7 linked regions of the Homo sapiens genome follow. The protein of the gene in region 1 purifies or fractionates together with the protein of each later gene. This does not show direct contact. Each region holds a gene or a part of one and is shown on either strand. Other genes may lie near its edges. The genes, in order: C11orf54, TKT, WDR1, COL10A1, BCAT2, SERPINB5 and SDF2.

Region 1 (4,466 bases):
GGTGATCTTAGCAAGACCAGTTCATGTAGAAAATGTCTAACACACCACTGCATCCAGCTAATTTTTGTACTTTTAGTAGAGATTGGGTTTCACCATGTTGGCCAGTTTGGTCTTAAACTCCTATGTTTATGAAAGATCATACATACACATATTAGATGCATATCTGGCTTCTAGTATTGCAATTTAAAGACTCACAAATTACTGACCAGAAAACACTTCTTCCAAGCATAACTCTGCATGACAAAATTAAGACTAACCATTTTGGCTGGGCATGATGGCTCACACCTGTAATCCCAGCACTTTGGGAGGCCGAGGCGGGCACATCACTTGAGACTGGGAGTTCGAGATCAGCCTGGCCAACATGATGAAACCCCGTCTCTACTAAAAATACAAAAATTAGCCAGGTGTCGTGGTGCACACCTGTAATCCTAGCTACTTGGGAGGGTGAGGTATGAGAATCGCCTGAACCCGGGAGGCAGAGATTGCAGTGAGCCAAGATTGTGCCACTGTACTCCACACTCCAGTCTGGGCGACAGAGCGAGATTCCATCTCACACACACACACACAAAAAAAAAAAAAAAAAAAAAAAGATTAACCATTTTTCCTTCTTTCTTGTACTCTTCTGTCTCCTGACCTTTATTTAATTTTAGTTAATTACTTAATTAGCAGGGGAAATACATTACACTCATATTTTTAAAAAAATCAAGGCTGGGCGTGGTGGCTCACGCCTGTAATCTCAGCACTTTGGAAGGCCGAGGTGGGCGGATCACGAGGTCAGGAGATCGAGACCATCCTGGCTAACACGGTGAAACCCTGTCTCTACTAAAAATACAAAAAATTAGCCAGGCGTGGTGGCACATGCCTGTAGTCTCAGCTACTCAGGAGGCTGAGGCTGGAGAATCGCTTGAACCTGGGAGGCAGAGGTTGCAGTGAGCTGAGATTGCGCCACTGAACTCCAGCCTGGTGACAGAGTGAGACTCTGTCTCAAAAAAAAAAAAAAAAAAAAAAAACTATAAAAAAGTACTATGCTAAATCCTTTGAAGAAGCTAAAAGAAATTGCCACATGGTACACAAGCCTTCTAGAATTTACAGCTCTACTTAAAATCAAAGATTGTTTAAGCTGTAAAGGCCCCCAAAAAACATTCAATTCAAATCCCCTCATGCTAATGTTATCTCAAAGTCAGGTTTGTTCTAAGACAGAACTAGAGTCCAGAATTTCTATGGCAAACTCCTTTTTAGCAAAGATGTTAATTACATAATAAAAAGAACACTTTGAGTGTTTATCCTCAAATTCCTCATCATAATAGGGTATAACAGGAGGGGGTTAGACTTTGGAAACAGACTTGCATTTGAATCCTGGTTATGATTTACACTGAGCTTATCTAGCCTCTCTCGTTTTCAGTTTTCTCATCTATAAACAAGGGCTACTACTTACCTTGTGGTGTTATTGTAAAAACTGAAACATCAACTAACTATCTATCATACTGACAAATTATTTTATTCTTCTAATACTAATTTCCCTTCCTTCTCACTTCAAACAGTGGATGCTCACTTGGCAAATTTGTTGAAGGATTAGTTTTAACAGATCATTCAAATACAAGGCTTTTAGGATCCCTTCTGGTCTTGAATAAATAAAATCATAAAAATTAAAATCAGTTTCCATAACAGTCTGAGCAATTAAAAGCAAAACTCTCGTGTGATACAAAGAATTCTAACCTATTGGATATCTATTCTACAATCTGTGAAGGTTACATAAGTGAATAAAACACAATCCTTTTCCACAAGAGTATGAAATGAAATTTAACCAATATCAGAAGAGTGAGCACAGAAATTTGGCACAATTTAGCCTAAATGTTGTGACAATATCCTTTATTTGTAGATAATTTAAGATGTCCTTAAAAATAATTCTAGTTTCAGAAAAAGATTATGACTAAAAAACAAAAGCTAATTGCAAAAATTGCTTACCTTTTACAGGAAAGGTAAAGGGTTCCTTAGTCAAATCAGGGCAATCAACTACAGAGACCTGGACATCAGCAAAGTTATCTTTTAACCCCTTCTGCATAACTAATAAAGACAAGGAATAAGATTATTTAACATTAGGTAAAAACTTGGCTACCACGTATCAAAAGTGGTATGTGGCTCTCAACACACTCCCAATCTCAACTTGTATAATAAAAAAGAAGGGGGAAATGGTCTTATTAATGAATATAATTAGACATTAGACATAATCACAAGATACAACGTAGACTAAGATATATAAATACTTCCTCTACAGTGATTTTCAACTGTTGAAGATAAACAGCCTGCACTTGTGTGAGGGTGAGGATTACCTTCTTTTTTGAGAGAAGATTCCAAAAACCAACTGAAATGCAAACATTTAAACTTTTTAAAAAGTAAGCAATCACATGTAACAACTTCAGTGAAGGTAACAGACAATATGTTGAACAAAGCAGCCAGACACAAAACACTACATACAATATTACTTCACCTTATGCATCTCAGAAACAGGCAATGGATCAAGGCTGACTGGGAAGGTGTGCAAAGGAGCCTTCTGGGATGTTGGAAATATTTTACATTTTGATCTGGATAGTAGTTACATAGGTGTAACTATTGTTAACATTCATCAAGCTGTACACTCAAGATTAGCATACTTTACTGTAGATAGTTATACCTCAGTAACAATGTAAAAAAGCATAGGTGTCTCAAAGTTATTAATGTAAGACCAATGTATTTCCCTCTCTCTTTTTTTCTTTTATATGTAGAGACCAGGTCTTGCTATATTGCCCAGGCTGGTCTCGAACTCCTGGACTCATGTGATCTTCCTGCCTTGGGTCCCCCAAAGTGCTGGGATTACAATGAGCCATCACACCTAGCCTCAACAGTTTTTTTTTTTTTTTTTTTTTTTGAGACAGAGTCTCACTCTGATAGCCTTACCTACCCTGTCGCCCAGACTGGAGTGCAGTGGTATGCAGCATGATCTTGGCTCACTCAGCCTTGATCTCCAGGCTCAAGTAATCCTCCCACCTCAAACTCCCCAGTAGCTGGGACTACAGGTGGATGCCACCATGATTGGCTAATTTTTGTATTTTCTGTAAAAATGGGGTTTTGGCTTGTTGCCCAGGTGGCTCTCAAACTCCTGGGCTTAAGAGATCTGCTCACCTTGGCCTCCCAAAATGCTGGAATTATAGGCATGAGCCACTGCATCAGCCTATGTACTTTTAAGGATCAAAAGTTCTTACAAAATGTCTTTTTTTTTTTTTTTTTTTGAGATGGAGTCTCACCCTGTCACCCAGGCTGGAGTACAATGGCGCAATCTCGGCTTACTGCAACCTCTGCTTCCCAGGTTCACGCCATTCTCCTGCCTCAGCCTCCCGAGTAGCTGGGGTTACAGGCGCCCGCCACCACACCCAGCTATTTTTTCTATTTTTAGTAGAGACAGGGTTTCACCATGTTGGCCAGGCTGGTCTTGAACTCCTGACCTCGTGATCTGCCTGCCTCAGCCTCCCAAAGTGCCGGGATTACAGGCATGAGCCACCGCACCTTGCCAATTTCTTTCTTTCTTTTTTTTTTTTTTGAGACTGAGTCTCGTGTTGTTGCCCAGGTCGAAGTACAGTGGCGCGATCTTGGCTCAACGTAACTTCTGCCTCCCAGGTTCAAGTGATTCTTGTAGCTCAGACTCCTGAATAGCGGGAATTACTGGCACACACCACCACACTCAGCTAATTTTTGTATTTTTAGTAGAGATGGGGTTTTGCCATGTTGGCCAGGCTGGTCTTGAACTCCTGACCTCAAGTGATCTGTCCACCTTGGCCTCCTAAAGTATTGAGATTACAGGCATGAGCCACTGTGCCAGGCCATAAAATTTCTACTTTTTCTGAATATATCCTGCACATATAGAAGGAAAATAGAAACAAACACAAAAGTGAAAACAGATTCTAGAAAAGCAATCAAAGAAAAAATCTGGCCAAGCATGGTGGCTCATGCCTGTAATCCCAACACTTTGGGTGGCCGAGGCAGGAGCATCGAGTGAGGCCAGGAGTTCAAGAGCATCCTGGGCAACAGAGCAAGATCCTATGTCTACAAAAAGAAAAAAGAAAAAGAAAAAATTCCTAACTGCCCTGTCATATTAGGGAAGACAGACTGATGAAAAAGAAATACAGGCCAAACAATACAGATTGTTTATTAGCTACCATTCAATTAGGGAAAAAAAAAAAGATTATAAGAGGAAAGTTACAACAAAGCAAAAATGAGTCTATTTCTTAACTTCAATCTTATCAGGATGACAAATGAACTACCAGAACATCACATTTTGAGAAACAAGCGAAGGTTCTATAGTTACCATTAGAACAGAACCTAGAGGTTGTTAAATAAAGGTTAGTATTCTGACAGACTTTACAGTTTTGGATAACAACTATTCCTGGCTTCATTTTTGTACTCGTTTTTGTTTTCCTTTTTTTGACTATCTT
Region 2 (4,466 bases), on another chromosome or scaffold:
CATCCCAGACAGGCAGAGCCCAGCCAGGCACGGGGGCCAGGAAAGGAGGGTCGCAGTGAATAGGATGGACTCCTACGTGCCCACCACTCACTGTCTACTGCCTGGTCCTTTGGGAGCTCACAGCTGAGTGGGAAAGGAGGGGCCAGACGTGGGCAGGTGTGTGTTTCTGGGCCCACTGCCCCATCCCTTCACCAATGTGTCCATTCTCTTCCTCCCCACAACCCCGCCTGCAGGGTCACACACAGGTAGAGGTGTCTGCTGCAGAAATACTCAGTTTGTCGACTGGGTTGGAAGGGACCCTGGCCATCAGAAGGGGAACCCAAGGCCCAGAACAGGGCTTCCAGGGTCACCCAATGCATCTGTGAGCAGCAGAGGAGTCTATAAGCACCTAGGCATGCCCACCCCATGGCACCTTGTTGTGTGCGGCCAGGAAGGCTGAATATCCCTCTCCCTGGAGGTCACCTCAGTAGTCACTAGAGTCTGGCCAGAGCCAAGAACAGACTGAACTCCCAGGTAGCACCCAGCAGCCCGAAAGACTAGCAGGAGCCCCCAAGAAGCTGCAAGTGGTCCAGATCCTGCCCATTTTTAACACCAGAGGGCAGTGCCAGGCAGCAGCACCAAAGCCATGACAATATCCCAGAGCCCTTTCCTCGACATCCACCCCCTCCCAGACACCTCCCAGCACTGCCAAACCCCCACTCAGAACATCCTCATATACCTGAGTCTACATGGGCAGAACAAGCCACAACCCCTGAGAGCAGGCAGGTGGGCAGCCAGGGGCATTTGGCAGGGAAGCCGACCCAGGCCCTGGGATCAGCCCCCCTCGTGCCATAGACTTCCTCTGTCCCCGGGCAAGTCCCTGACCACTTGTAGTCTCATTTTCCCATCTTTAAAATGGGTGAGGCCATCCCAGGCCTAGGAATCTGAAGCCCACACCTGGGTGCCAGGGAGTGACTTACGCCTGCCTCATTCTCCGGCCTGGGGCAGAACCCAGGTTCCAAACCCCCCAAGGCTCTTGGCCCACACAGGCCTTGCTCAGCATCTGCCATTGCTTGAGGAGTACCCCACTCACCTCCTGGAGGGAACAGTTCTCTCCGGGCCCTGCCTGGCTCTGTGTCGGCCCTTCAGCTGGAGCAGGTGGCCGGAGCTGGCAGAGCACACACAGCTGCAGCTCTGAAAGGCACCAGCCAGGGTGGGGCACGGGGGCTGCCTCACTCCACGACCTTCCTCTCACCCACAGACCCTCCAAGTCCCTCCTCTCCTCCTGCCTGTACATGCCCCCACCGGCAGAGGCCAGACGGATCTGAGTTTAAATCCTGGCTCAGCCACAGGGGTCACTGAGTCACAGCATCTCCCGCTCCCCTTCCCTGGAGCCTGGTGAGCTCAGTGAGCAGCAAGGGCTGTTTCCCTGGATGTGCGGGTCAGAGCTACGTAGCCACAGTGTCTGGGCGAGGGGTGAAGGTGGGGAGGGCGGCTTGTGCATACTGACCCGTGATCCCTCGGCCCTTGAAGGTCTTGGCAATGATGGCTGTTGGCTGGTGCTTGGCCTGGCCAAAGGCCTTGCACAGCTCCTCCACGCTGTGTCCATCCACGATGATGGCATGCCAACTGGGGACAGGGGGCAGAGAGTAAGGGGCAATTCCCAGGGGCCACAACACCGAGGAGCCTTCCAGGGAAAGGTCTGCCTTGGCAGCTGGGGTCTGCCCAGGCTCCACCCCACAACTGCGGCCTCAGCTGGAGTAGTAGAAAGCTTGCAACATTCCTGTTTCCAGTTTGGGTTTTTTAAATCCTTTTCTTTTTCACATTATTTTACTTCCTTTTGTTTGCCTCTGAACAGGTTTTCCTCCTCCTCTTAAGTAATCCAGAGCTCAGTTCCTTTATTGTCTCTTTCATTCCTGATCTGCTCATTTCCTACTGAAAGCTGTTCTGGGGTCAGCGCACTGGGTTTGGAATCTGTCTGCTATTAGATTCTTGATGAATTTTTTGGCCCAATTCTTATTTGGGGAACACATTTGATCACTCCACAGATGCTGGATGTGGTGCTGGAAATGTTTTTGAAATGAACCATGGAGTCAAATATACAGGAAGGAGCTGGGGCAGAGCACCCTTTCTCTTGAAAAGCTATCCTTTTGGGGACTCTTTTTGACATAAGAATAAAAATAGCACTTCTCAAACTGAGTGCCATGCCAACCACTACCCATATTAGCCCACTGAAGCCTCACCACGCCATGCTTGGGTGCTGAGCTGGCCCCATTGTACAGACAAATCAACTGAGACACCGAAGGTGGAGTAAGTAACGTGACCCACGCCACAAAGCAAGTTAGCGGTGGAGCCAGGACTTCAGGAATCTGGCTTGAGTCACGAGGTTATGGACACAGGTCCTGGGGGTGCTGCTGGGGTTGTACTCTGAGTCCCCAGATAGATGTGGCCTTGGGGAGGCCTGTGGGGTGAGGACCCTGTGGCTCAGTTTCCTCGCCTGTCCAACAGAGATTATTTCCTCCCTTCCTCCTCTCCCTTTCTGAGGTCAGTCATCAGGGAACACAGGCCTGCGTATGCTGTGCTACTGCAAGGTAACCCCAAGCATCCTGTTACTTAGTGTAGTCACAGGCATGGGTTCATCCGCAAAACGCAGTCCTGGAGGCCTGACCTGAGTCTCAAAGCCTTGCACGGCACCTGCCCTGCTCCCTCCCCTCCACAGCCTCCTCAGCCAATGCTGGGCCCCTGTGCAGAGCAGCTTGTGTTTGGCAACACCGGTGGAGGCTTTGAGGTGGAGCCCCTCTGGCTGACACCCATGCAGATTGACCTCCCTGCTTTGTGCCCTTTGACCCTGAATTTGTAACCAATCAAGGCCGAAGGGGGGCATCTGGAAACCCTATCTCCCATTTCACCAGGAGCCTGTTCCTCCTCCCCAGGCTGGGCGGGGCTGGGCACAGGACGTGGCCACCAAACTGAGGTTCAAACCTCTCCGCAGCTATACATCCTTTAGCTTTACCGAGCAAGCCCCCATCCCTCAAGAACCCTCCTTCCTCAAGAACAAAGCGAGCTGACGTGAGATGGTGTGTGGAAGCTCCGAGAGCCACCATGCCACAACCACGAAAACAAGGAAACTCACTTAAAACTGGGCCTGGCCCACATATCCTGAGCCATTAAGTCCAAATGCCTAGAGTTTGAAATTGTGAGTCAAATGCTAAAGAAAGGGACCTTTAGATGGTGCTTAAGGTCCCAGCTTCAGCTCCTGCACCTGCACCTGCAAAGCTGTGATCACAGACCACTCTCCCGTGCTGTGACCACACTCAGGCCACAGCCTCGTACATACCCGAAGGCCTCGCACCGCTTCTGGTAGATGTCCATCTGGTGCTGCAGTGGGGCCGGGTCACTCTGGCCCAGGCGATTGATGTCTAGAATGGCCACAAGGTTGTCCAGCTTATAGATGCTGGCGAAGGCCATGGCCTCCCATACAGAGCCCTCTGACAGCTCCCCGTCTCCCAGCAAGCAATAGACTCGGTAGCTGTGGACAGAGAGTGAATCAGGCCAGTCCCTCTCACCTGGACCCAGCTGGCTCCCACCCCCCCACCCATCCAAGGAGCCTGCATTCTGGGTAAAGGAGCAGCCACGCATGGATATGCAGAACAGATGGCATTTACACTCGAGGGGCAACAGTGTCACCAGGTTCCTGCAGCCTACCACAAGCCACACCCCAAGAGAAAATGGCATGAAGGAAGACGTCAGGAGCTCAGGAAGAAGTACTGGTTGTTAAGAAACAGAGGTCTAGGACAACAGGGATCTGGCTAATAAGATCTAGAAAAATGGGGGTTGTTGGAATGAGAGGAAAGTGAGGAAGGGTGGGTGAATAGGCTTGAGCCACCTGCTGCAGGGGACAGACCCCGCTGTGAACCAGAGGTTGGAGGAGGCCTTGGGACTGGCTGGGTGGGCCAGTGGGAAAGGGGAACCTTGGGAACCAAGCTCTGCTTCTGCCCGGAGGAGGGAGGTGGGCCAAGGAGGCCTGAGGCACTCTAGGCAACACCCTGGAGCAAGAGGGCTCTGGGGAGGATAGAGCAGAGGGCACTTGAGGACCAGGCGCTTCCTGGGACAGGCTCTCCCCAAGCTTCCAAGACTAGCTCTTGACCCCAAGACTGAAGCTGCACCTGGCTCTTTCTCTACCACAGGGGCCCTCTCCTCCCCTCAACACAGGCAACTGTGATCTTTTCAAGACAGTGAGACGTTAAAAAGAACACTGAACTTGGGATAAATTACCCAGCAAACAGAACGTTCCCGGCCTGGGAGATGTGAGGGGATGGGGGTAGCAGAGGGACGGCAGCAACAGACAGGACTTGTCTGAAGGTCGCGCTGTCAGGAAGTTGCTGAGCCAGGATTCAAACGCAGGTCTGACTGTAGCCTAGACTGTCCGCTCCTTGCCGTGCAGGCATGCAAGTAGGGTGAGGAGTGGTAGGACTTGGGGACCTCCC
Region 3 (4,466 bases), on another chromosome or scaffold:
ACCCAGCCCCTAGCATGGAGGGCACTGCCACGCCTGCTGCAGGACTGGGTTATCAGAGGGCTGCCCTCCTGGGCTGGAGAGGGGAAATGAGCTCTTCTACAGAGCACTCAGGACTTGGCCAGGCACACTGTGACCAGACCACACACACAAATTCAAGGGCATGAGAATTATGCCGAGGCAGAACTCAAGGGAAACTGTAAAATGTCTGGTTAGTACCGCACCTTGAAGATGCTGGGAAACTTCTGTCACTCTTCCTTCAACCTGTGAGCCGAGCCCAGCCCCAGGGGATGCCATTCCTTGATTTCCTGACCTGCTACCCTCTTGCGCTCCCCTCCTGCCGCCACTCATGGGGCTGGCTCTGAGGCACAGCTGTGCCCTCCTCGGCACTCCCTCTACCTCACTGTCCACAGTCTTGTGGGCACCCGGGCAGTGAGGTGGGGGAAGTGCCGAGGAGGGGAGGGGAAGGCTCCAGCCCTGGGTGGCAGGAGATGGCGTGGCTGGGCCCCAGAGCAGGTCCCACGCCCCGACTGCCCCCATCCTTCCCCTGACCCCTCGCCTTCCCTGAGACAGCCCCGGTACTCACACAGCTCACACTGTCCCCAAATCACCCAGATACCAAGGACAGAGAGCACGGGGGAGAGGAAAGCGACTTACCACACCCCCAATTGCCACCGTGTCCCCGCCGGGGTGCACTGCCACAACTTCGGGCTCGTAGCCGGGGTTGTCGATGCTGAAGCACTTCCTCTGATCCTTCAGCAGGACAATCTGTGGCACACACAGGCAGCTGGTCAGGCGGTCCAGCCCTTCGGGACAAAACCCTCAGTGGTAGGAGGGGCGCGTCCCTGTCGGGGCTCACTGGAGCTGGGTTTGGCTCCATACCCAACCTCTTTGCAGGGCCACCTGGGGCTCTGAGCCACACCACCTGGACTCATGTCCCGTTTGACAGTTGCTCTAGCCAGTCAGGTGGGGCAGGAAACACAACTAACTGTGACCATTACTGTCATCACTACATTACTTCCAAGGCAGTCACCACAGCACCACCTCTTGGAAAGTCACTTGGCCTCGATGGGAATCAACGTTCAGGGTAAGAAAGGTACTAACAACAGTAAACAAAAACAGCGACAGCCCCTAGGCACGTGCCAGCGCTCTGCTGTGAGTGTTCCAGCCCCACAAGGCAGGGATCGGGTTCCCCGTTTCAGAGAAGAAAATGGGGTACGGTGCTTATGCTGCACGCCCAAGGCTCCAGTTCCCACAGGCTGAGCCGGGACTCGCCCAGAATCCAAGCCTCGGCACCCGCACTGGGCCTTTGCCTCTGGTACATGCAGCAGAGGCTCTGCAGCGGGGGCCTTCCTTCCATCTCCCTTCCTTGTCAATTCTTCCGGTTCTAACTTACTCAACTGCTCCCAGACAGTGGCCTTCATCTCTGAGTTTTGCCTTTATCCCAGTGTGCCCCTACCCAAGCCACCAGCTGTCATGAGGGAAGGCAGCCTCTGCCCCTACCGTCTGGGCTTCTGTTTCTGCGTGGATTGTGGGTGGATCGCGATGAATGGTAGCAGCACCCTGACTAAAACCTACTACTGAAGAGGCACCTCTGTCATCTGCCCGGCTCTGGAGGTGGCCTTACCTACTCACAGGTGAAGAATGAGGGCCTAAGCATTTGCCTGAAGCTTCGTCCGACATGAGACTTGAACCTGGTTGTTTCCTGATCTAAAATCCCAGGCCCCTCCTAGCACCCTCCTAACTCTTTGACTGGTGACAGGGAGCTCTGCAGAAAATTCTGACCCAGAGCAGGGGTTCCAGATGCCCTGGGAGGATCAGGTAACAGCAGATCACAGAGAAATGCCACATGAGGAGGTGCAGAGACCTGGAGCCTGTCCCCTGCACACCACAACCCTACCGGGGTCCTTTCTAACCTCCTGGGCAGCAGGCGCCAGCTGGGCCAGTCTGAACATCCTCTCAGCCTCAGGGGAAAGGGTGGCCTATGATGACCACAACTTTACAGATGAGGAAACCTGGGTCTGGAGACACAGGGCACGCTGCCCTAGGCCTCATCCCCTCACCCACAAAGCCCCATGTGCAGACCCCTTGGCTGGGAAGAGCCCTGCTGTGCAGAGATAGGCCACCTGCCAGCCTTCTAGAACTCCGCTTTGTAGCGTTTCCCCCAGGCCCCGAGGCGCTCCATGTGTGGATTCCCTTTGCACCTCCCCACCCCCACTGGCTGTCCAGGCTGTTTGCAATAATTACTTGGCAGGGATTTCTTATTATCTAGGACACAGAGAAATCCACTGTCCCTAACGCAATTAAGTTCACAAGGCAAAGGAGGGCCAGAGGGTGCTGAAAGCAGCTTTCTTTAGCAGGGCTCGCCACTCGTGCCAACAGGTGCCCCTTGACTTCCCCGGTCTACATGCCAGCAAGCCTAGGCCCGCCAACAGATAATATCTTCTGCAGGGCAGAATTCTGTATAAAGTGGGTCAGGCTTGGGTCTCAGGTGGCTTTGGTCCAGATATTCCAAAGGTGTGCAGGTGGCCCCACTGTCTGGGGTTAGAAGCCAGGCCGGGAAGTCAGGTGCCACCCTTCTGCATGTGGGAAAGTACCAAGCTGCTCTAGGCCTCAGCCTCCTCATCTGTAAGAGGAACCAAGATGGTGTAAGGAGACTTACATGTACTTCCTCATAATCACCTGGATCTGTGAGTGCTGGGGATGGGAAACTAAGGCTCAGAGAGGGTGAGGTAAATGCCGGAGGTCACACAGCTACAATGCAGCAGGGCTGGGATGTGAACAGGAGCAAAGGCAGGCCCACCCCACAGGGTATCTCATAGACTTTACAGGCTGACAGGCAGGCAGCGTGGTCTGAGGCTTAGAGACAAATCCCAGCTCTGCCCTCCGACCAGCTGCGGCCTTGGACAACCAATTTATCCATTCCGTGCCTCCATTTCTTCATCTGTACAACTGATGTGATGGTGGTGAGGATTAAATATGTGAGATCCCTTAGTGCAGTGCAAATGAGCACTCAACCAAAACACTGGCTAGAGCAACTGTCAAACGGGACATGAGTCAAATTCAGCAAGCAGGCACCACACAGCTGCAGGCTCCCACCCAAACACTAAGCCAGGTCCCTACCTGTCCAATGCACACGACCACGGCGTATCCCCCGGGGCCGACGGCTACGCACTTTGGCTGAACGTCCAGTTTCACAACTCCTTGTCCGCTGTTAGAGAGAAAGGAAGCACATTACTTCGACAATGCAGCAGCTCAGGGTAGGTATGCATACATATTTACTGTTAAACCACAGTTTTGCTCCTTAGAAGGCAATTCTATTGCCACCTATACTGGAGAGACTTGCTAAAATATGGGATGGTAGCGAAAAAACGATCCATGACTCTGGTGCAAAGAGATTATAAGTCATAATGGGGGCCCGGGGAGGGGTGGGGGGGGGGGAAGGAGGGGCGGGAGGCGGTGAAAGGCGTTGATTATGCTCCTATTTATCTGTGGTAAGCCCTCATTACACCCAGATGTGGCTTTTGTCCCCCTGTCTGTTGGCTAAAGACTGGAGTTTACTGAGCACAGACAGAATTGAGCTCTGCTCCCCAAAATGGATGGGTAACTTTTAAGAATCCGTTACCTTTAATGGGTGAAAATCATGTTATTTTTAGCCTTGGCCAATGCTATCAAAACTTGTTCTAGAAAGACTCATACACACAAACTTCTTGAAAACTGAGATAATCAAGGAAATTTCTGTGTCACTCGGCCAAGTGTGGCATCCCCAAAGGCTCTGCAGCAAGGTCACCAGGCCAAGGCTGGCTCTGTAAGGGCCTTGCCTTGGGTTATCTGGCCCAGGGAAGACCCTTTTATGGGACGTGTTAAGAGTGGGGTCACCACAGGGCAGTAGAAAGAGGACCAGGGCCCAGATGCCTGGGCTCTGGGGCCGCTTCTGCCACTCATCGGGAGGCCCAATTTACCTACAGATGCCCAGTCTGCCAGGCAGGCAGGGCCTGTGTTACCTACAAGGACGGCACACCTGCTAGGAGTTGCGTGCTGCACCCTGTGCCAGGCTCCCATCAACAGGCCCCAGGAGTCCCCATCTCCCAGGCAACACGACTTAGGCAGGACTACCGGGTGACAAAGGGGTCTACACAAGAAATGTAGGGCCAGAGGAGGGGTCAGACCTGGGCATGGGGACACTGGATGTGCAGTGGCCTCGTCAGGTCCTGGAACATTTCTCTTTCAAGTCCCTCCAACTGCATTTAGGACTTCAGATCACTTGCAAACTGCTACTCTCCTAGCTCCACTGACTGCCAATCAAAGGCCCAAGACCAAAAACAAACAAGACATTGTCTTTTAACCAGATCACTGTGTGCCCATCTCACCCTTGAGCAGAAGGGGAATGCTGTCTTGTACTCAGCACCTGCCCTGTGCCAGGCTCACCTAATCCACAACAGCCTGAGGCAGGCTCCACTGTACCCGCC
Region 4 (3,328 bases), on another chromosome or scaffold:
CTGGTATTCCAGGGGCACCTCTTGGGCCAGCCTCTCCATTGTGTCCGGGCATTCCCTTTGCTCCTGCTGGGCCCACAGGGCCTGGGAGACCAGGAGGTCCTCCAACTCCAGGATCACCTTTTGGACCTGGTAACCCTGGGTTACCCTTAGGACCATCGAGACCTGGTTTTCCTGGGTACCCTGGTTTTCCATCTGACCCAGGGGAACCCCTTTCACCCTTAGCCCCAGGGTATCCTGCAGGCCCAGCTGGCCCTGTCTCACCTTTAGGGCCTGGGAGACCATGGCTACCCGGGATGCCTTTTGGTCCTTGGGGTCCCATATTCCCAGGGGGTCCAGTCAGACCTGGCTTCCCAGGAAGACCTGCTGGCCCTTGTTCCCCTTTGGCACCTGGACCCCCAGGAAGGCCAGCAGGTCCTCTTTCTCCCTTCAGGCCTGGCAAGCCTGGTTTCCCAAAGCCAGGAGGCCCTGGGGGCCCAGCTATTCCTGGAGCCCCAGGGAGACCTTTTGTTCCTGGAATCCCTGGCTGGCCTGGGGCTCCAGCAGCTCCTGGCTTTCCAATGCCTTCTGGCCCTCGTTCCCCAGGAGGGCCTTGGGGACCTGGTGGGCCAATTGGTCCCATTTCTCCCGGAAAACCTCTATCACCTTTGATGCCTGGCTGTCCTGGAACCCCATTTTCACCTCTTTTTCCCACTCCAGGAGGGCCAGATGGTCCTGTGGGACCCTGAGGGCCTGGAAGACCCCTCTCACCTGGACGACCAGGAGCACCATATCCCATTTCCCCTTTCTGTCCATTCATACCAGGGACTCCTGGTGCACCCTTTTCTCCAGGAAAGCCCCTGGGTCCTGGGGCTCCTGTGGGTCCCTGTTGTCCAGGTTTTCCTGGCACAGAAATTCCAGCCGGTCCAGGGATTCCAGGTGGTCCTGGTGGGCCCCGGGGTCCTGGTAGGCCAGCTGGTCCAACATCTCCTTTTGGTCCATATGGTCCTCTCTCTCCTGGTTTTCCTGGGAGTCCTGGCACACCTGGTTTCCCTACAGCTGATGGTCCCGGTGGTCCTGGCAACCCTGGCTCTCCTTGGAGTCCAGGACTTCCGTAGCCTGGTTTTCCTGGTGGTCCAGAAGGACCTGGGTGCCCTCGAGGTCCAGCAGGGCCTGGTGGACCAGGAGTACCTTGCTCTCCTCTTACTGCTATACCTAAAAGACACACCCAACACACCCACCCATAGAAGGGGATGGTTAGTGACATTAAAGAGAATCATTGCCTTTCAAACTATGAATTGGGACACGATATTTCAGCATCATTTATTCCATGTAGACAGAACAGTCTGAAATGGTTTTAGATTATATGTTTTATACTGTTTTAAAAAATTCTGCTGGAGAAGATGGTTTCACAAAACCATGGCTACCATAATACTTTTATCCCATGACAGTGATTCATGAAAATGAGCTAGGATTGAAGAATTCCTCTAGAATAAGTGCAGTGGAGGTAAATTTAGTACATTTATTTTGGGAAAATCATGTACAGAAAAGGCAGAAAAAGACAGTGCAGAATAAGTGAGAAAATGTTTAAGAACTATAAAAATTTTCCCTCCCAAAGCTACCCTGTCAGACATAAAAGAGAAACAGAATTAATTCTGATTTACATCTGCCATGCCTCTGCTGAACACAGGTTAGATTTTGGTTGATTTACTTTTACCTCAGAATATACTCTGAGCTCTTATACTCTCCATTATTGACTTAAAATTGAAACAAAGAACTAGAGAATTAGACATAATAGGTGAGGTACATAAAATAGTATTAAAGTTCTTACCTAAATACAAATATATAGTGTTTGATTTCATAGAGCTGTGAGTTCACTTGACCTGATAAACTAAACTTAAACTAAAAATCATAGTGCCTGTGATGTGAAAAATGCGGCTGGGCCACAAGTATGGGGAAAGCACAGGGTACAGATGTTTCTGAGATTTGGAAAACATTTGGTGTATATAAATGCAGAGCGAATCATTAAAATAGATATGCCGAAATAGGAAAATAATTGTTTCAGATTTAGATTTTTTTTTACTAATTAGAGTTATATTTCAATTTGAAAACATTGATTAATATAAATACATAGAGCTTTCCCCATGGATTTTCAGAAAATGACATCAGGAAAAAGACTGTGAGAAAAATTTATGTAAAAGATTTCCGTATATTAAATATTTCATTGATTGTAGTGTACATACATGATTATATTATGTATAAGTGGATATTGATATATTGCAAATAGAGGAATAAATAAGGAATTTTTTAATGGGTTGGAGGAATAAAATAGTGGATTTTTTAAAATGCCAACTATGTTAGATTGAGCTTTGCTTTAGAATCTGATTATAAGGGTCATGTTCACACTAAAAATAATTGTCTTAGTCTGATTGGAAATCTGTTTTACTATTAAAAAGGAGAAACAAGTCAATGGAAATGAGTGCATTGGGCGTCATCCGAGACTGGAACTCCAGTGACAGGGCGAACTTTGTCACTTGGAATGTTGTCCTAATGGGTCTCAACTTCTCAGTGCGAGAAAGAATTTGGCTTCTATTGAATGCTTGGGGGACAGCCCCTGTTTGTAGGTTGTCATCTGAAAAAATTTTCTTCATTCAAGATTAGGGTGGCACAATCCTCAAGGTAAAACGACTACTTCCTTCTATTAAGTTTTTTAAATGCCACAAACTGAAATCGTGATTGGTTGTGTCAGAATGTGGCACGTGCATCTGCCCACCAGCTGTGGAATCCTCTGCAGCATAATTTAGTATGTTTTGACAGAACTCTTTTTTAACCTGTGTTGGATGGATATGCCTAGGAATTATGTAATAACTCTTTGAATTCCTGTTTCAACTTAATGTCTTACTTGTATAGACTGTGGGCTTTTGTGTTTGTTATGGTGCATTAATGTCTGCCAATGGATGATAGTGTAGTTGAGTGTCTATCTAAAAAGAGACTAAGGTGGATTTAGTAGTTTAAATACAGCTTCTGAACTTTTCATTTGTTAAGATATTTTCATTTGTTCTGCAAAAGTAGCCAAGATAATGGTGTATATTAAGAGAAGATCAAAGTATTTTTAACCTTCTAAAATAGTGCATTTTCTTTTTAATTCAAGACTTTGTTATGCTCTTATTAAGGTGTTAAAAAGTCTGATTTTTGTGATCATGGAAACTATTGAATCCAGTGCTGTTTGTCATAGCATTTCAAATTGTGTTTGTTGCTTCAAGTAAAGCGGAAGGTTGCTTTGTCTTTTATTTTTTTCTTTACTAGCCTTTAAATTTTAAAATTTTTATTTATATTTTGAGACATTCAAAAG
Region 5 (4,199 bases), on another chromosome or scaffold:
CCATACAGCCAGAGGACCTGTTCACAGCCCCGCTTGAGTGCCTCCTGTTGCACTAACACGGTGGGCCCATAATTCCTGGTGGAGGGCAGTCTGGTTGGGTGGGGCAAGGGAGCCCCATCCTTCCCCAGCCCAGCCCCAGAGGAGGCTCATCCTACTCTCTCCCGTCTCCCTGCTCACAGCTCTCACAGGGCTCCCCAGTTCCCCTGAGATGGAATCCTTGACTTTTCATTTGGCATCAGGACCCTAAATGGTTATGTCCCCTCTCTCCTGTCTCTTCCCACTTTTCTTTCTTTTCTTTTCTTTTTTTTTTAAGACGGAGTCTCGCTCTGTCACCCAGGCTGGAGTGCAGTGGTGCGATCTTGGCTCACTGCAACCTCCGCCTCCCAGGTTCAAGAGATTCTCCTGCCTCAGCCTCTCTTGACCTGGTGATCTGCCCGCCTCAGCCTCCCAAAGTGCTGGGATTACAGGCGTGAGCCACCGCGCCCAGCCCTCACCCATTTCATACTGACCAAATCCTCAGCTGTCATTCAAAACCATTTCTTTTTTTCTTTTTTTCTTTTTTTTTTTTTTGAGACAGAGTCTTGCTCTGTCGCCCAGGCTGAGGCTAGAGTGCAGTGGTGCGATCTCAGCTCACTGCAACCTCCGCCTCTCGGGTCCAAGCGATTCTCGTGCCTCAGCCTCCTGAGTAACTGGAGTAACTGGGGCATGCAGCACCATGTCCGGCTAATTTATATTCACATTTATATTTATATGCCCGCCTCAGCCCCCCAAAGTGCTGGGATTACAAGAGTGAGCCACAGCGCCCGGCCTTACTTTTTATATTTTTAGTAGAGACGGGGTTTCACCATGTTGGCCAGGCTGGTCTCAAACTCCTGACCTCAAGTGATCCGCCTACCTCGGCCTCCCAAAGTGCTGGGATTACAAGCGTGAGCTACCGCGCCTGGCTCCAAAACCGTTTCTGTTGTCACCTCCTCGAGAGGTGTTTCCAGACCTCCAGGCTGGGTGCTGGACCTTCCCTGGACTCCCCCAGTGAACTGGGCTACCTGGATGACTTTCTGAGTCTCTCTCCCAGAGATAGCCTCTCCCCTCAGCTGCTAACAAGCCTCCCATGGCTCCCCAGTGCCCCAGGACAAGACCCTAGCCTCCTTCCGGCATTCCAGGCCTGCCTGGGTCTAATGAATACTTGCTAAGCATTTTTCAAAACCCAAACTTATTTTTGTAACCTGAACATCTTCTGTGATCCTATTCCTTCTGTCCCTGTACACATGGTTCCCAGGACTGGAAACAGTTTGCTGACTTTTGTACCCAGGAAACCCCCTCCTCCCTCCTCGTCAGACCTAGTTGAAGGGTCGCCTCCTCTGCGAAACCTTTCTTTTTTTTTTTTGAGATGGAGTTTCGCTCTGTCGCCCAGGCTGGAGTGCAGTGGCGCGATCTCGGCTCACTGCAAGCTCTGTCTCCTGGGTTCTCGCCATTGTCCTGCCTCAGCCTCCTGAGTAGCTGCGACTACAGGCGCCCGCCACCAAGCCCGGCTAATTTTTTTTTTTTTTTTTTGTATTTTTAGTAGAGATGGGGTTTCACTGTGTTAATCAGGATGGTCTCGATCTCCTGACCTCGTGATCTGCCCGCCTCAGCCTCCCAAAGTGCTGGGATTACAGGCGTGAGCCACCGCCTCTGGCCTCTGTGAAGGCTTTCACAATGCCCTGGGTCACCTCACCAGAGAACATGCAGCTCCGAATACTGGGGCTCCCACCAGCCTGGGAGACCCAGGAGAGCAGGGCTCGGGGCTGACTCATCTGTGTCCCCAGCTTCTGCCAGCACAGGGCCTGGCCCTCAGGAGACCTCACAGGATGTGGCTGAAAGGACCTGAATGCACCCCCAGCTGGGGCCACATTCCTGTCCCAACACGCCAGTGCCCACCCTCTGCCTTGGTTGCCCAGGAGACCCAGCTGTCTCCTTCCTGCCCTGCTGAGCTGAGGCCACTGGGAGACAGATTTACACAGAAAGTCCACACGGGGGTGAGGGGCTTTGGAGGCTCAAACGACTGTGGGAGCTGGGTATGGGGAGCGCAGCCCAGCCTGGGGGATCAGGGGAGGCTTCTGGGGCGAGAAGCCAATGAGCTGAGTGTAAGCTTCACTCCTGGAGGCTTCCAGGGACCAGTCCTGGTTTCCCCACTGACCTCCACCCAATGCCTTCCCATCTGTGAGCCTTTTTGTCCATCTGAAAAATAATCCCCTCCTCCTTCCTTCCATGGTTTGTTTTCAGGGACCAGGGAGGTCACTTAGCACTGAGCCCTGCACGGTGCTGATGATGTCACCTTCATGTGACATCCAGAGGCATGGCCGAAAGCACGCACGCTGGTCCCTGTGTCTCCAACGCCCAGTGCGCCAGTCGTTCTGGGGATGGGGGTGCTACTTACCCACCTAACTTGTAGTTGCCGACCCCGCCCACCCAGGCCCGGATGAAGGCTGGGTCGGCCAGGAGGGAGACCGGGGTCACGGAGCCTCCAGGGAAGTAGGCACCCACTGGGCAGAGAATGACGAACAGGAGCGCGCGCGTGGGCTGGCTGACACCCAGCGAGGGCTGCGACGGGCAAAGGGACAGCGTCAGGAGTCCAGGCCCCCAGTCCCTTCCCGTCCCCAGGCCCAGGCCTCCAGGACCCCACCCCTGCCCTGCAGAATCCAACCCCCGCAGCCCAGCTTCCCAGCCCTGGAGTTGGGCCCACCTCGTTCCCAATGAGCACAGGCCGCACATAGAGGCTGGTGCCGGCGGCATCGGGGACCCAGTCCTTGTCCACTTCGATGAGCCGGCGGATGCACTCCAGCAACTCCAGCTTGTCGAAACTCTGGGTGGGATTCTGAATGAGTCAAGGGGCCCTTGCTGCCCCGGCCCCAGCCCTCCTCCCCACCCCGGTGGACCGGGACCCCTCACCGGCAGGCACAGGCGCATGGCTGAGCGCAGCATCCGGTCCATGTTGAGCCAGGGGCGGAAGAGGCGCACCTGCTGGTCTTTGCCTTTGAACGCCTTCATGCCCTCAAACAGCTGCGGGGACACGCGGGTGGGGAGGCTCAGAGACTTCTCCAGACAGTCATGAGAGACACCAAGACAGACAGAGACAGATACACAAAGACACAGACAACTGAAAGATGGAGGCCAAGAGGAGAGCACCGGGGAGATTTAGCAGCTGGGTCAGAGAGATGGAGAAAAAGAGAGACAGATATAGACAGGGAGACAAACAGGTAGAGACACACGGAGACTCTAGAAAGCAAAGGACACGACCGGGCTCAGTGGCTCACTGTAATCCCAGCACTTTGGGAGGCCGAGGCAGGAGGATCACTTGAGTGTAGGAGTTCGTGACCAGCCCAGGCATTATAGCAAGACCCCATCTCTACCAAAAAATACGAAAATTAGCCAGACGTGGTAGCACGTGACTGGAGTCCCAGGTATTTGGAAGGTGGTGGGAGGATCACTTGAGCCTGGGAGTTTGAGACTGCAGTGAGCCACGATCATGCCACTGCACTCCAGCCTGGGACCTAGTTTTTTTTTTCTGGAGACTCTGTCCCTGATCACTGCCCCATGGTTCCAAGTTTGCTTGTTCAGCATCTGCTCCACTGCAGAGTGGAAGAGCCTGGAAGGCAGGGATTACCCTTGACACGTTTACCAGACAGCCTCTCCTGCAGTCCCATGCACCAGGGTAGGCAGCGCTTGGCACAGAGTGTTTTTTTGTTTTGTTTTGTTTTGTTTTGTTTTGAGACAGGGTCTCACTCTGTCACCCAGGCTGGAGTGCAGTGGCGTGATCTCTGCTGATTGCAACCTCCGCCTCCCAGGTCCAAGTGATTCTTGTGCCTCGGCCTCCTGGGTAGCTGGGATTACAGGCGCCCACCACCACGCCCAGCTAATTTTTGTATTTTTAGTTGATCCACCCGCCTCAGCCTCCCAAAGTGCTAGGATTACAGGGGTGAGCCACTGCACCCAGCCAGACTTTTTTTTTTTTTCCCATAGTGGGTTTTTGATGAATGAATAGATAAATGAATGGAAGACAAGCAAAACTAGCTACAATATTTTGGGGGGATAAAAACCACCACCACAAAAATGAGGGGCAAGATGGGGCAGGGGCAGGGAGTAGCCATATCAGGTAGTAAAACATTATAAATCTACAATACTTAAAACAGAGTGACACTGCTATATGAGTGGACAGACTG
Region 6 (4,466 bases), on another chromosome or scaffold:
TCAAAGGATTATAAATCATGCTGCTATAAAGACACATGCACACGTATGCTTATTGGAACACTATTCACAATAGCAAAGACTTGGAACCAACCCAAATGTCCAATAATGATAGACTGGATTAAGAAAACGTGGCCCATATACACCATGGAATACTATGCAGCCATAAAAAATGATGAGTTCGTGTCCTTTGTAGGGACACGGATGAAGCTGGAAACCATCATTATCAGCAAACTATCACAAGGACAACAAACCAAACACTGCATGTTCTCACTCATAGGTGGGAATTGAACCATGAGAACACCTGGAAACAGGAAGGGGAACACCACACACCAGGGCCTGTTGTGGGGTGGGGGGAGGGGGGAGGGATAGCATTGGGAGATATACCTAATATAAATGACAACTTAATGGGTGCAGCACACCAACATGGCACATGTATATACATGTAACAAACCTGCACATTGTGCACATGTACCCTAAAACTTAATGTATAATTAAAAAAAAGAAAAATAAATTATTGAAATAAAAAAAGAAGAAGAAGAAGAAAATAATTGATGTTTATTGGAGGGCGTTTTAAGAACGAAAGGTAAAATCCAAGACAGCTGGATAATGGCTGAAAGATCAAAGCATAAAATGGAAAGAAAAAAAACAGAGAGAGTAATGCACCAAAGAAGAAGAAGGACAGGAATTATAATTCAGTTAATAAAGTGGTGGCTAAAACATAATGGCAACCAAAGGAGCAAGCTGGAGACTGGATGGTCCCCTGGAAAGTCAGCAAATCACTGAGGCCCATGTGGATATATAGCAAGTGATCCAGGCCTTCAAAGAGCCCCTTCTTCCTTCCTGGCCAAGGGTTGAGGCCAGGCGGGGTGGAGCTAGAATGGAAGCCAGGGAGGGACTAAAGGGAGAACAGGCCTCAGCCAGCTAAGCAGAGGTGAGGGAGCAGAGAGGAAGCTAAAACTCCATTCACCTGCAGAGAAAACTGCTACTCTTATTTAAACTTTGTGCCTTAAAAATCTATATAAATAAAATAATATAATAACCCTTATCATATAAAATAAAATACTTATATATAATGTGTACTATAAAATAGTATCTGCATAATTCAAAATTTTGAAGCATATATGTGTACGTATTAAAATCTCATAAATGTACAACACAAAGAGTGAACCGTAACGTAAATTGTGAAGGCCAGGTGTGGTGGCTCATGCCTATAATCCTAGCACTTCAGGAGGCTGAGGCTGAGGATTGCTTGAGGCCAGGATTTCAAGACCAGCCTGGACAACACAGTGAGATCCCACCTTTACAAAAAAAAAAAAAGCCAGGCATAGTGCTGTGTGCCTTTAGTCCCAGCTACTTGGGAGGCTGAGGCAGGAGGATCACTTGAGCCCAGGAGTTTGAGGTTAGAGTGAGCTACCATCATGCCACTGCACTCCAGCCTGCCCAGGAGTTTGAGGTTAGAGTGAGCTACCATCATGCCACTGCACTCCAGCCTGGGCAATGGAGCAAGACCCTGTCTCTAAAACAATAATAATAATAATAATAATAATAATAGTAATATGTCAGTATTGGCTCATCAATTGTAACAAACATACCAAACTAATGCAAGATGCTAATAACAGGTGAAACTGTAGGCCTGGGACGGGAAGGGGAGTATATGGGAACTCCTTGTACTTTCTGCTTATTTTTCTGTAGGCATAGATCTACTCTAAAAATAACATCTACTAATTTTAAAAAAAAAGAAAGAGCAAGAGAGAGGATGCTTGACATCAGGTCACATGATAGTGGACCTGGCAGTGCGTAGCAACGTAGTGCCTTAACTGCCTAGGAGGTGAGGGAGACACTCTAGCCTTCAGTTAAGAACCTGGCTCCAACTACCTGGGCCCAAATCCTGATCCTGCACACACCCTTGACTAATTATGTAACCAGTTACCCACCCCTCTGTGCCTCAGCTCCCTCACTGGTAAACAAGAGTGTGGTAACAGTCTCTAACTCATCAGCCTGCTGTAAGAATTAAATGAGATAATGCACGTAGGCAACTTAGCACAGTCCCTAGAACACTGTAAGTGCCAAATAAATTTTGGCTGTTGTTAATATTAAGGAGGAAAGGCCCCAGAAAGAACCATGGGTCCTTGGAGGTGACTGAGCCAGTGGCAATAAGGGAGGGCTACCGGCCCAGCTCTCACGGCCCACACAGACCTGTTGGCACAACTCTTTGCCAAGGCAGGGGGTGCCTTTGTGGAGAGCACCTGCCTTCTCCTTACCTTCTCCAAGCCTGTGGACTCATCCTCCACATCCTTGGGTAGTAGGATGAACATGCTGAGATGCTTATTTTGAAAAGGAAGCTCTATGATCTTACAATTGATACTGTCAATGTTTCCCATACAGAACGTGGCCTCCATGTTCATCATCTGCACTGGTTTGGTGTCTGTCTGTAAAAGGGAAAATTTGGACTGCTTACTTTTCAATTTACACATGCATAAATATATATATATATATATATACACACACGCGCGCACACACACACACATATATACCCACATGTATATATACAGACACACATACATATATACCTACACCTATATATATACAGATACACATACATATATACATACACCTATATATACACATATACATATATATGCATACATACATATACATACATATACATATACACACACCTATATATACACACTTATATATACATACTATATATATATACCCCATACATATATACACACATGCACATATATACACATATATAGGCAAACACATAAATATATATGTACATATATATATATACACAAATTTGCTCTTGACACAGTGTCAGATTATTATGGCTTATAATTCATCATCCACTCAGATCCAAACTGTATTGCACTGAAACCAGAGACTGTCCTGTGAAGAGTTTGTGTTCCTTTGAAAAGTTATTCATATACTTTATAATCTACATGTTACACATTACATGAAGTATATATAATACTGTATTTGCATAGATCAAACCTTAAAAATAAGACTGTATGGCTGTAAATATAGGCAACGTTTGTTATTCTTTACAGATGCCTATGAGATCTTTAAACTATTCCTGGTGGAGCTGACTTGAAAGTAAATTCTACTGCAAACCCACATAACCATTTATACGGCTTTTCCTAATAAAATGCCTAATTTCAAAAACTGGCTGGGCACGGTGCCTCATGCCTGTAATCCTGCACCTTGGGAGACCACTTGAGGTCAGGAGTTCAAGACCAGCCTGGCCAACATGGTGAAACCTTGTCTCTACTAAAAAATACAAAAGTCAGCCAGGCATGGTGGCACACGCCTGTAATCTCAGCTTCTTGGGAAACTGAGGGAGGAGAATTGCTTGAGCCTGGGAGCCAGAAGTTGGTGTGAGCCAAGATCATACCACTGCACTCACTCCAGCCTGGGCAACAGAGCGAGACTCCATCTCAAAACAAAACAGAACAATAACAACAACAAACTTAGCACATAGCAGAACAAAACAATATTTGTTGTGACCTCTCTGTTTGTCTTTGGTTTGAATTGCCCACTCCCCACTGTACTGCCACCTACTCAGATCTGAGCTAATTAACAAAGTCTAAATTGAAGATAAGAACCTTGGTTTTTAGTCCCAAATGTGACATAAACAGATTCTGTGGCCTTGAGCAAATCACTCAATCTCTCCAGGCCTCAGTATTCTTGTCAGTAGAATGAAGAAATTGTAAATTCAGAATAATGGTTACCACTGGGGAGGAAGAAAGAGGAACAGGACAGTGGAGTGAGCAGTGAAGGGATACATACAAAGCAATGCAACTGTTGTTATATTTTTTCTTTAAAATATCTGAAATAATTAAGGCAAAATATTAAGTTCAAAAAGATGATTGATCGGTATATGGGTGTTCGTTTTATTATTCTCTATCATTTTCTGAATGCTTGGAGTATTGCATAATTTTTAAAAAGGAAAATGTTCTTTAAAATTATCTCTAAGTCTTTTTAAAATTATCTCTAAGTCCCTTTGAGCTCCACTGTATGCTTGGCTCTTTTTTTTTTTTTTTCAGAAACGTTGTGTTCAATGGTAAAGCTTAGCACAGCCCAGCACCAAGAATGGTGTGCAGCCGCAGCAGCAGGGACAGGCAGGTGACCCCCACAGAGCTTCACATGGCGAAGAGGATAAGGAAGGCGACCATCAAACAGAAGAGCCCCATGGCCTCAGACAGGGCAAAGCCCAGAATCGCATAGGAGAAGAGCTGCTGCTTGAGAGATGGGTTCCTGGAATAACCAATGATCAAGCTGCCAAACGCTATTCCAATGCTAGCCCCTGAACCAACCACACCAACTGTGTCTGCCTCAGCACCAATAAACTTGGCTGCGGTGTCAATGTCCCAGGAGACAACCTGGTCTAGAACTCCTGTCTGGCCACACCTAAAGTGGGGAGCTGCTGTAGGAAGGCTGTTTAGATGAATGCTCTGGGC
Region 7 (5,027 bases), on another chromosome or scaffold:
CTTGACAGAATAAATAACTGTAAGCCAGGCGCAGTGGCTCACACCTATAATCCCGGCACTTTGTGAGGCAGAGGTGGGTGGATCACAAGGTCAGGAGTTCGAGACCAGCCTGGCTAACATGGTGAAACCCCGTATCTACTAAAGTACAAAAATTAGCTGGGCATGGTGGCGGGAGCCTGTGATCCCAGCTACTTGGGAGGCCGAGGTAGGAGAATCGTTTGAACCTGGGAGGCGGAGGTTGCAGTGAGCCGAGATTGCACCATTGCATTCCAGCCTGGGTGACAGGGCGAGACTCTGTCTCAAAAAAAAATTAAAAAAATAAAGAATTGTTACCTGTGTGTGCTTACTCGTGTATATATTACATATCTATAAATTTTTATTTGCATAGCCATCTGTATCTACATATATTAAGTTAAATGAGCTTTCTTTTTCTTTTTCTTTTTTTTTTAAGATGGGTTCTTGCTGTGTTATTCAGGCTGGAGTGCAGTGGCTACTCACAGGTGTGATGATAGTGCACTAGAGCCTCGAACTCCTTGGCTCAAGCAGTCCTCTTGCGTCAGCCTTCCAAGTAGCTGGGGATACAGGCATGCCCCACTGTGCCTGGCTAGTGTTCTTATTGATGTCTTTAGCTGTAATCCATTACCACATAGATCGTCCTAGCCTCCTCCCTGTGCTAATTTGTAAATTCCCACTCCAACAGTAAGATACCTTGTTCCTACCATCTGCCATCCATGTATTGAACTTCAGTTCAGTTCCAGTATACAAATATAGCAGTATCAGAATTACATACTGGTACCCTCCTGGGAACAATTTTATCAAGTAGAGTGTACACACACACACACACACACACTTCTGAAATAATCAGTAATTTTTTAATTGCCATCGTATAGAAACTGAATATTTGGCCTTAAGGAAGATGGGATTTAGATGAGGAGTAGAATATAGAGAACTTGCTTTCTCTCTCACTGCCTTATTAGAAAGAAAGAAAAGAATGTAGAAAACTTGCTATGTTTTGCTCAGTTAATATTTGCTATCTCATTTAATTCTCACAGTTGCTCTGTAAGGTGATATTGTGATCATTTTATAGAGGAGAAAACAAAGGCTCAAAGGATTTACAGAAGAAGGGATCAAGTTGAGATTCAAGGTCAGCCTGACTCCCAGAGTCCATTCCCTTTTGAACTTGTCATCAGGTCATTTAAAATCTAGTTAAGAGAATGAAGCAGTAATATTTAAAGTCAAATAACAAGAGATATAAAGTATTTTAAGGGCAGAATGTGGTGGCTCATGCCTGTACTCCCAGCACTTTACTACGCTGAGGTAGGTGGATCACTTGAGGCTGGGAGTTTGAGACCAGCCTGGTCAACATGGTGAAACCCCCATCTCTATTAAAAAATACCAAAATTAGCTGGGTGTGGTAGCACATGCCTGTAATCCCAGCTATTCTGGAGGCTGAGGCATGAGAACCCAAGAGGTGGAGGTTGCAGAGAGCCGAGATTGTGCCATTGCACTCCAGCCTGGGCGACAGAGCGAGATGCTGTCTCAAAAAAGTAAAGTATTTTAAAGCCAGCACGGTGGCTCACACCTGTAATCCCAGCACCCTAAAAGACCAAGTGGGGAGAATCGTTTAAGTCCAGGAGTTAGAGGCCAGCCAAGGCAACACAGTTGCCTACCAAAAAACTTTTAATTACCTGGGTGTGGTGGTATATGCCTGTTGTCTTAGCTACTCAGGAGGTGAGGCCATAAGACCACTTGAGGCACTGCACTCCAGCCTGGGCAACAGAGCAAGATACCCTAACTGTTTTTTTTTTTTTTTTTTTTTTTTTTTTGAGACAAAGTCTCACTCTTGTCATCCAGGCTGGAGTCCAGTGGTGCAATCTCGGCTCACTGCAACCTTCGGCTCACGGCAACCTCCGCCTCCCAGGTTCAAGCGATTCTCCTGCTTCAGCCTCCCGAATAGCTGGGATTACAGGCGCCTGCCACCACACCTGGCTAATTTTTGTATTTTTAGTAGAGATGGGGTTTTACCATGTTGGCCAGGCTGGTCTTGAACTCCTGACCTCAGGCGATCTGCCCGCCTCGCCCTCCCAAATTACTGGGATTACAGGCATGAGCTACCGTACCTGGCCACAATCCCAACTCTTAAAAAGAAAAAAAAAAGAAATTCTGTTTTAACACTGTAATAGAAAATATAAGGCAATTATAGTATTAATTGCAAAATAAGTGTTTGGACCATAATCTTTTTTTTTTCCTTTCTTTTTGATGCCATGACTCAGATAAGAACCATGGACCATAATCTTATAGCAATGAATTTTTTTCCTCCTATGTCCTTTATGTCTTTCGTCTTTTTCCATGGTTCATGGTTTAAACAACACTGGAGTGGCCGGGCACGGTGGCTCATGCCTGTAATCCCAGCACTTTGGGAGGCTGAGGCGGGAGGATCACCTGAGGTTGGGAATTCGAAACCAGCCTGACCAACATGGAGAAACCCTGTCTCTACTAAAAATACAAAATTAGCCGGGCATGGTGGCACATGCCTGTAATCCCAGCTACTAGGGAGGCTGAGGCAGGAAAATCACTTGAACCTGGGAGGCGGAGGTTGTGGTGAGCCGAGATTGCGCCATTGCACTCCAGCCTGGGCAACAAGAGCGATACTCTGTCTCAAAATAAATAAATAAATAAATAAATAAAATAACAACACTGGAAAGCAGCTGAATTTTTTTTTTTTTTTTGAGATGGGGTCTTGCTCTGTAATCCAAGCTGGAGTGCAGTGGTATGATCACAGCTCATTGCAGCCTTGATCCCCTGGACTTAGGTGATAGCTGTAGTAGCTGGGTACCATAGGCATGTGCCACCATGCCCAGCTAATTTCTTTTTTTTTTTTCTTTTTTTTTTTTTGAGACAGAGTTTTGCTCTTGTTGCCCAGGCTGGAGTGCAATGGTGTGATCTCGGCTCACCGCAACCTCCGCCTCCCGGGTTCAAGCGATTCTCCTGCCTCAGCCTCCCGAGTAGCTGGGATTACAGGCATGTGCCACCACACCCAGCTAATTTTGTATTTTTAGTAGAGACAGGGTTTCTCCATGTCGGTCAGGCTGGTCTTGAACTCCTGACCTCAGCTAATTTCTTTTGTATTTTTTTTAGGGATAGCGTTTCACCATGTTGCCCAGGCTGGTCTCAAACTCTTGGGCTCAAGTGATCTGCCCTGCTCAGCTTCCCAAAGTGGTAGGATTACAGGCATAAGCCTGGCCCCTCTGATTTTTTACTTCAAGGTGGCCTTCTTTTTCTTCCCATTGCCTCCCACCCCTTTTCAAGCCCTTGTCAGCCATGCTGATGTTACTACCTTCTGTATTTTCTAGGAAGTGAGTGCTTTTGGTGAGGAAGGTGAAGGTGATTATCTGGATGACTGGACAGTGCTCTGTAATGGACCCTACTGGGTGAGAGATGGTGAGGTGCGGTTCAAACACTCTTCCACTGAGGTACTGCTGTCTGTCACAGGAGAACAATATGGTCGACCTATCAGTGGGCAAAAAGAGGTGCATGGCATGGCCCAGCCAAGTCAGAACAACTACTGGAAAGCCATGGAAGGCATCTTCATGAAGCCCAGTGAGTTGTTGAAGGCAGAAGCCCACCATGCAGAGCTGTGAATCTAGAGGCTCTGAGCCACTGTTAACGCACAATGTTCACAGACATCTGTTGCTGCCTCACCTTGGGATCCCTGCCACAAGTTCCTTGGGCAGTGGCCATGTCACCATTGAGATGAAGATATACAACAGAAAATAGTGGCTGTGTTTGGAAGCTTCAGCCCTGCACATTTGAACTAGTCACTCTCCCAGACTTGCGTGGGTCAGTTCTTTCTGAGTAGAGGACTTGCTGGTAAAGGGGCAGATGCTTTTTATTAGTACTGATAAAACAAACTGAGGGAAACATCCCTCTTAGCTGGGAAACTTTTACTCTTCAGGAGCTTGGCATCATGGACTGTTAATGTATGTGATTTTCCCCCTATTTTCTCTCTCCAAAATGATAAAAACAATAATTTTATTATGAGTCACTGTGTTGTTATTTATTAGGTGTGCTATTTCATTAGCTGCTTAATCCTTTGAGTCCTAAGACTCTTTGGAGACGCTATGAAGCTCCAATGTGGGCCCTTTTAAGAGCTTTTCTTGCATACAAACCTTTTCTCCCTCTACTTTGACTTCTCTCCAGGCATCTCATCTTTAATAGATCTTTGACTAATTATAGCTAAAAACTCTCAGAGAATACAGCATAATAAATAGCCAGTGAAATGTTTGCTTTGTATCTGTTACTGCAGATGAGAAAAAGGTGTAGGGGTAGAAAGAACGAACCAGTATTTATTCACTGCTAAATACTAGGTACCATATTATAGATCTTTTTTTTTATTTATTGTTTTTTAGACAGAGTCTCGGTCTGTCGCCCAGGCTGGAGTGCAGTGGCGCGATCTCGGCTCACTGCAAGTTCCACCTCCTGGGTTCACAACCATCCTCCTGCCTCAGCCTCCCAAGTAGCCGGTGCTACAGGCACCCGCCACCACGCCAGGGTAATTTTTTTGTATTTTTAGTAGAGACAGGGTTTCACTGTATTAACTAGGATGGTCTCGATCTCCTGACCTCATGATCCGCCCGCCTCAGCCTCCCAAAGTGCTGAGATTACAGGCGTGAGCCACCGCACCCGGCCTATAGATCTTACCTCATTTAATCTTCACAGAATTCATATAGGGTAATACTGCATTTTTATCAGTGCAGCAGTTGAGTAACTGCCTGAATTCTTTTTTTTTTTTTTTTTTGAGACAAGTTCTTTGCTCTGTCACCTAGGTGGGAGGGGCACAATCATGGCTTATTACAGCCTTGACCTCCTGGGCTCAAGTTGATCCTCCTGTGTCAGTTTTTGATTTATCGTAGAGATGAGGTCTCACTATGTTACCCAGGCTGGTCTGGAACTCCTGGGCTCAAGTGATCCTTATGCTGTGTCTTCCCAAAGTGCTGGGGATTACAGGAGTGAGCCACCATGCCTGG

What was found.
Region 2: the proteins of C11orf54 (region 1) and TKT fractionate together in Homo sapiens (co-fractionation; one large-scale study listed by BioGRID). This does not show direct contact.
Region 3: the proteins of C11orf54 (region 1) and WDR1 fractionate together in Homo sapiens (co-fractionation; one large-scale study listed by BioGRID). This does not show direct contact.
Region 4: the proteins of C11orf54 (region 1) and COL10A1 purify together in Homo sapiens (co-immunoprecipitation; one large-scale study listed by IntAct). This does not show direct contact.
Region 5: the proteins of C11orf54 (region 1) and BCAT2 fractionate together in Homo sapiens (co-fractionation; one large-scale study listed by BioGRID). This does not show direct contact.
Region 6: the proteins of C11orf54 (region 1) and SERPINB5 fractionate together in Homo sapiens (co-fractionation; one large-scale study listed by BioGRID). This does not show direct contact.
Region 7: the proteins of C11orf54 (region 1) and SDF2 fractionate together in Homo sapiens (co-fractionation; one large-scale study listed by BioGRID). This does not show direct contact.

What each region holds. Positions count from the first base shown.
Region 1 is NC_000011.10:93,747,944-93,752,409, reverse strand, and holds part of C11orf54 (ester hydrolase C11orf54), read right to left. Parts: intron 2,065-4,466; coding exon 1,966-2,064; intron 1-1,965. UniProt on the Homo sapiens protein: Exhibits ester hydrolase activity on the substrate p-nitrophenyl acetate, in vitro. Regulates DNA damage and repair by regulating HIF1A degradation via chaperone-mediated autophagy (CMA).
Region 2 is NC_000003.12:53,231,667-53,236,132, forward strand, and holds part of TKT (transketolase), read right to left. Parts: intron 3,509-4,466; coding exon 3,317-3,508; intron 1,609-3,316; coding exon 1,490-1,608; intron 1-1,489. UniProt on the Homo sapiens protein: Catalyzes the transfer of a two-carbon ketol group from a ketose donor to an aldose acceptor, via a covalent intermediate with the cofactor thiamine pyrophosphate.
Region 3 is NC_000004.12:10,078,237-10,082,702, forward strand, and holds part of WDR1 (WD repeat-containing protein 1), read right to left. Parts: intron 3,209-4,466; coding exon 3,121-3,208; intron 766-3,120; coding exon 655-765; intron 457-654; exon of another isoform or gene 375-456; intron 1-374.
Region 4 is NC_000006.12:116,120,771-116,124,098, forward strand, and holds part of COL10A1 (collagen alpha-1(X) chain precursor), read right to left. Parts: intron 1,192-3,328; coding exon 1-1,191.
Region 5 is NC_000019.10:48,797,259-48,801,457, forward strand, and holds part of BCAT2 (branched-chain-amino-acid aminotransferase, mitochondrial isoform a precursor), read right to left. Parts: intron 3,040-4,199; coding exon 2,929-3,039; intron 2,843-2,928; coding exon 2,723-2,842; intron 2,581-2,722; coding exon 2,417-2,580; intron 76-2,416; coding exon 1-75. UniProt on the Homo sapiens protein: Catalyzes the first reaction in the catabolism of the essential branched chain amino acids leucine, isoleucine, and valine. May also function as a transporter of branched chain alpha-keto acids.
Region 6 is NC_000018.10:63,497,083-63,501,548, reverse strand, and holds part of SERPINB5 (serpin B5), read right to left. Parts: exon of another isoform or gene 4,046-4,466; intron 2,430-4,045; coding exon 2,262-2,429; intron 1-2,261. UniProt on the Homo sapiens protein: Tumor suppressor. It blocks the growth, invasion, and metastatic properties of mammary tumors.
Region 7 is NC_000017.11:28,647,603-28,652,629, reverse strand, and holds the end of SDF2 (stromal cell-derived factor 2 precursor), read left to right. Parts: intron 1-1,087; coding exon of another isoform or gene 1,088-1,144; intron 1,145-3,353; coding exon 3,354-3,641; 3' UTR 3,642-4,284; downstream 4,285-5,027.